Linked DNA regions of Homo sapiens. The protein of the gene in region 2 interacts with the protein of the main gene of each other region in a biochemical or structural test. Each region holds a gene or a part of one and is shown on either strand. Other genes may lie near its edges.

Evidence for each region. The genes of interacting proteins can lie anywhere in the genome.
Region 1: the proteins of PIP5K1C (region 2) and ITGB1 form a complex in vitro, tested with the Homo sapiens proteins (one study listed by BioGRID).

Annotation. Positions count from the first base shown.
Region 1 is NC_000010.11:32,903,025-32,906,230, reverse strand, and holds part of ITGB1 (integrin beta-1 isoform 1A precursor), read left to right. Parts: intron 1-3,206.
Region 2 is NC_000019.10:3,632,076-3,634,468, forward strand, and holds part of PIP5K1C (phosphatidylinositol 4-phosphate 5-kinase type-1 gamma), read right to left. Parts: intron 1,706-2,393; coding exon of another isoform or gene 1,685-1,705; exon of another isoform or gene 1,621-1,684; intron 1,446-1,620; coding exon 1,362-1,445; intron 1,095-1,361; coding exon 1,092-1,094; 3' UTR 1-1,091. UniProt on the Homo sapiens protein: Catalyzes the phosphorylation of phosphatidylinositol 4-phosphate (PtdIns(4)P/PI4P) to form phosphatidylinositol 4,5-bisphosphate (PtdIns(4,5)P2/PIP2), a lipid second messenger that regulates several cellular processes such as signal transduction, vesicle trafficking, actin cytoskeleton dynamics, cell adhesion, and cell motility.

The DNA of each region.
Region 1 (3,206 bases), on a different chromosome or scaffold from region 2:
TTGCAAAATAGAAAAATATAACCTACTATGATATTTGTATGGTATGCAACTACAATATCATTATTGGTTCTCAAAAGATTTGAGATCAATTTCTTGAATATAACTTGAAATTTCATTAAAAGCCAGAAGACCATATATATGTATGTATATTATATATATATGTGTGTGTGTCTGTGTGTGTATGTGAGAATGATTCTAATTTTCAAATGTAAGTTTGTAACTGTTCATATCTGAATTTTCATGAAATGCTTCCAGCATATTCTAATAAAATCATGCAAGCCCCTAAAACTCTGATAACAAAGGTTAATTGTGATTAGAACTAAATTCTCCTGACTGGTGGTTGAGAACTCTTCTTCTCTTTCCCAACTGACTGACTGTAATAGGGCCTGGAAGATTTCTGCTTTTCTCACTGCCTACCTTATTGTGCAGATAAAGATGGTATTGGGAACACTTACATAAAAATCACTGTGTCTCAGGCATGATTCTGACCACTTAATCTGTGTTTAATCTTCATAGTGAAAGTTGTAGGAATGTTTTACATATGAGAAAACTGAGACACATAAGGGTTATGTAACTTGACCGAGTTCCCACGGCTGGTTAGTCAGAGAGCTGAGATTTGAACCCAGGCAGTTGGGCTCCAGAGTCCATGTTCTTGTCTATGACATTGTACTTGGTAGCAGTTATGTATCTTCAGAAGTCCCGTTACCTGGTTAGGAAGAGGTAGATCACTCTTTATAGAGATTTACAGCCCTTTTACAATTTGTTGTTACTCTGTCAGAGTTAACACTGCTGCTGTTGGCAAACATCATGTTAGGGAAATCACTTTAATACATGGAACCCAGTGCTGTTGTTGTGTTTTTTGACTATTGAGAGTGTGCTTACAAACTGATCATGAATAAGAGCCTACAGTACAGGAATGTTTAATAGTTACAAGTGATATAGGAAGTGCTGATAACATTAGAAATCATTAACTTGTCAGATTTTTATTTCTAAGTAGACCGTAAGATTTTTAAAGTTAAATTTGATGGCAGAAAATTATATTCAAATTCACATATGGGCAGGTTGGTACATATTTGTATTAGTCTGAGACAATATATTTTTCTCGTTCTCACTTAGTACTTTACAGAAAGTCATTTTTAGAGGAAAACTGATTAGCCAATGACATTGCCAGGCTTTTTTTTTTTTTTAATACATATTTTTTTCTTTAGTTGTAGGTCAAAAATAGTCAAATGTTGACAATTTCATGTGGTTATTTCTCACAAGAGAAAAAATTTCTGTCCTACTGAGGTGAAATTTTCACCCTTGCTGTACCTTTCATTGTATTTTGAAGGAAATTATCAGTAAATGTTATTTAAACTTAATGTTTATAATGTATATATGGCTAAAATGTTGCTAAAATAAGCATTTTATGTAATTCAGGAAGCAGAAGTTTGGTAAAAATTTCTCTATGCATTATTGAAGTCCAGGCAATTTGATGGCTACAGATTATTTTAAGAGATGTTTTTCTCAAGAAAAAGTAGAAATTAACAATTGAAATAAATGAATGAGCATCAAGAAATTACATCATGGATTGTAAGAAACTTTTCTGATATGGACCAAGGTTTGCCAGTCAATTATGTCATTGAAATTTTTGAAATAATGGGCAGGCGCTAATTACTTTGGCAGAAGACTACCATGTAGGAACATTAAGAAGAACATGTCACATTATCAGCTTCTAACTGTTGGAGTGGGTTAAAAAAATGGTCTGTCCTCATCTGCTGCTATGCGGGTTTAAATGTGGCTCCCAAATCTCCCACACTTCTGCATTATGTATTTAATACATTGTAGAGATGGTTCTGCAGCTACCACTGTCAGCCATTCCAGAGTGAGCACAAAGATGACATTTTACTGAGCTTGAGGGCTTCCTTTCATAATATAACCCTGTTCTCTTGCTGCGGGTTTTTTTGGGGTGGGGTGGTGTTGCACTCTGAATGATGGAAACTAATTTGAATTATTTTAGTTTACCTTCATTTAAAATGATGCCTAATACAGATAGTGAGCTTAATTTTACCTCTAACCTTGCATGTTAAACTTTTGTTTGAGTGGACTTTGAAATAATAAATACAAATGTTTGTGTATACGACAAGACAGATTTTTCTCCAAAGGTAAGTTCTTCCATATAAATTACACTTTGGACTCATCTATATAGGGCTTTTTTTCTTTATTTTTTGTTTTCTTTTTTTTTTTTGTCCTTCCCTTATAATTCTTGAGTATTAAATACTAGATTTAGCAAATATATTGTATTAAAGAAATTTAATTAGATGCTAATTTATTTTCCCAACATATTTGAAGGAATGTGTAGCACTTAGCCTCAAATCAGATAGGATATAAATGTGGAGTGTAATTTATTTGCACTCTGGCTTTTTAAGATAGTAGTTGCCAAAATCCAGTTTCCTGACCCCCATTTTGAAATGTCTGCTCTCACAGCTGTATAATGTATTAGCTTCAGTTGGGACTAGAGCTGAGAGTTTGATGTACACAGTTTTGTCATCCACATTATATGCTGTTTGTCTCTGAGGGATCCTGAGTTTGTCCATGTTTCTGAAACAACCAGTCAAGGTGTATTTTGAGGAGAGGGGAGTGAGGGCTGAGGTATGTTGTCTGGTTCTGATTGGTATCACATGAGCTGCTGAGCTGAAATCACAGTGGTTTATTTGGTGTCTTGCAGGACCCAGCCTTTATATGTTAATGTTTTTCCCTCATTGGTATGGGATACCTACAGGATGAAGTTTCAGACTTCATAGCAAGGCCTCTAGGACTGTTCTTCCTTTGTCTCCTCACCTCCAATCATATGCCCCCTTAATTCTTTTTTTTCCTCTTTTTTTTTTTTTTTTTTTTTTGAGATGGAGTCTTGCTCTTTCGCCCAGTCTGGAGTGCAGTGGTGCGATCTCAGCTCACTACAATCTCCGCTTCCCGGGTTCAAGTGATTCCCCTATCCCAGCTTCATGAGTAGCTGGGATTACAGGCACCCGCCACCACACCCAGCTAATTTTTGTATTTTTAGTAGAGACGGGGTTTTACCGTGTTGGCCAGGCTGATCTCAAACTCCTCACCAAAAGTGATCCACCCACCTCGGCCTCTCAAAGTTCTGGGATTACAGGCATGAGCCACCGCGCCTGCCCTCCCCTAACTCTAGAAACTTCTGAACTGTATGTATTTCTACTTAA
Region 2 (2,393 bases):
AGCGCTGCCCTCTTGGAGGGTGATGAGTCGGAAACAAAGTCTTCTCTCCCCTCCTCGGAGACATCACATCACTTAAACAAGAAAGAGGCGGCGGACATCCACACCAGTCCTGAAGGAGACTCCTGTGGAGCCGGGCCTGGCCCCCTAGGCCATGTCTCCACGTGGAGGGGGCGGGGAGCCTGACCTTCCGCCCTGAGCTGGTCTCCTGTGGCCCAAGGCCCGGCCTCCCGCTCTGTCCTGCCATGGAGAAAACGTCTCCGTTGCCTGGGCCCTCCATGCCAGTTGCTGAGTGGCCTACGTTGGAAGAGAAGGACAAGTCCCCAGCCCTGAGCTCCGCCAGCGTGGGTGGCAGCCTGGGGAAGAGGAGGCCTGGCCCTCCAGCTGTGGTGGGTCTGGATTGGAGGCGCCAGAGGTTTTTGCTCGAGGGGCACCTGGGAGGTGGGCGTCAGGGCCCCACTGCGGCGGGAACATAGCTGCTGAGTGGCCGCAGTGCTTGGCAGGGCGAGGGCTGTCCCCACAGTCGATGTTCAGGCCAGATGTCCTGCACTGAGGCCCCCAAACCCAAGCTGAGGGCAGGAGGGTCCGCTTCCCACGTGGATGGAGGCAGAGTTGCTCGGGACCCCAGCCGTCCCCTCTGCAGGCCGATGGGGCCCCCGGGGCTCAGGTCCCCAGAGGCCACCGCGAACAGCCTGGCTTCTTCCTCAGGACACAGGCAGGCACAGCAGAGAACCAAAGAGTGCAGTGGGCAGGGGCTCTTCTCCCTCTGGTTGGTTTGTTTGTGTCTTTTTTGTTCTTTTCCTAAAACGGCACACACGTGCTTCCGTCTCTGTGCCAAATAAGGACTCAAATGCGATTGGCCGCTCGGGAGGGTGGGTCTCACAGGGGCAGGCTGCCGACCGGGGTGCCGGGGCCCTGGGAGGCTTGTCGGGGAGGGGCCCGGCCGTCGGCATCCGTGCAGGGGGAGGACGAGGTCCGGTGGGGCGGCGAGGCGGGCATCTCCCGAGCTCTGGGCCTCAGCGGGGTGGGCAGCGCCTTCGGGGGCAGCCGGAGCAGAAGTGGAGCTCGGCTCTGGGTCGGGGGCTGCATAGAAATTACTGCAAGAGCAAGAGGACAGGTGAAGGTGGGCGGGGCGAGGGCCCACCCCAGGCCCCCTGCCAGGGACTGGCTTCCTTGGGCCAACACAGGCCCTGAGACACTTAGCCCACGGCCACCTCAGAGCCAGAGAGCCCAGGGTGGAGCTCTGGGCCACCTGTGCCCTCCCGCCCCGGGCCTCAGTCCCTGCCTATCCCAGTAGCTGGGGACCACGCTCAGTAGAACCTTGGAGCCCACGGGACCGGCGGGTGCACCTGGGCTGCACTTACTGTGTCGCTCTCGCCGTCGGAGGCCGGGGGGGCCTGGGCGCTATAGTGGAGCGGGGAGTACACCCAGCTCCTCTCATCGGTGGGCTGGCAGGTGGGCGCGCGTGCAGGAGGGCGCGGAAGAGCAGGGTGCGAGGAGGTGCAAGAGAGGCAGAGGGAGGAAGGAAGAGACAGGAGAACATAAAAGAGGCGAATCCCCCATGGAAGACGAGGGGTGGCTCAGCCCAGCTGCCCTCTCTGACCCGGTGGACTTGCTCCCAACCTGGACGGGCCTGGGGCCTCAGCTCAGCTTGGCGGGGCGGGGCACGGCGGGCGGCAGAAAGCAGTTAGTTCAGTCGAGGCAGGGCCTGAGATAGCAGGTGACAGAGCCGGCGGAAGCGGGTGGGGGTCGCGACCTGGAGCACCGAGTGTTCCTCCTCCTCCTCCTCCTCCACAGCCCGGCCCCACCACAGCCCCCAATCCTGCCTGTGCCACGGGCACCAGCGCACAGGCTCCTGGAAGCTCTCTATGGGGGTCCTGGGAGGTCGGGGTGCCGGACCTACTTCCCAACCCAGAAGCCTTTTGGGACCTGAATATATGGCTGCCTGCGGGCAGGGCCAGTCCCCTCTGCCAGCACAGACGTGCTAGGAGAGACTGAGGCTCGGACCACCCACCCTGCAAGAGCCAGGAGACGCCTTCCTGAGCAGCAGGGCAGAGTGAGGGCCAAGTTCAGGGCTAGGCACAGGCAGGGCCGTGTGCAGGGACACGGACAGCTCTTCCCAGCTGTGCCTGCGTGAGGGGTCCCAGGTCTGGGTGGGATCTGGGGAGGGAGGGAGGGTGCGTTCCTCCAACACCTCCGTCCCGCCTCCTGAGGAGCCCCCACCCCCTCAAGCTCCCCCTGCTTCTCCTGCCCCTAGGCTGCTCTGCTTTCTCAGGGCTCCAGCCTGGCCGCCCTGTCTTCCTTGTTGTGTCCTCCTCTCTCTCGGGCCTCTGTCACCAACCCAGCCTTCAACGCCCCTCCCGGCACAGATGACCTGCGAATTTCCACCAGGCCTG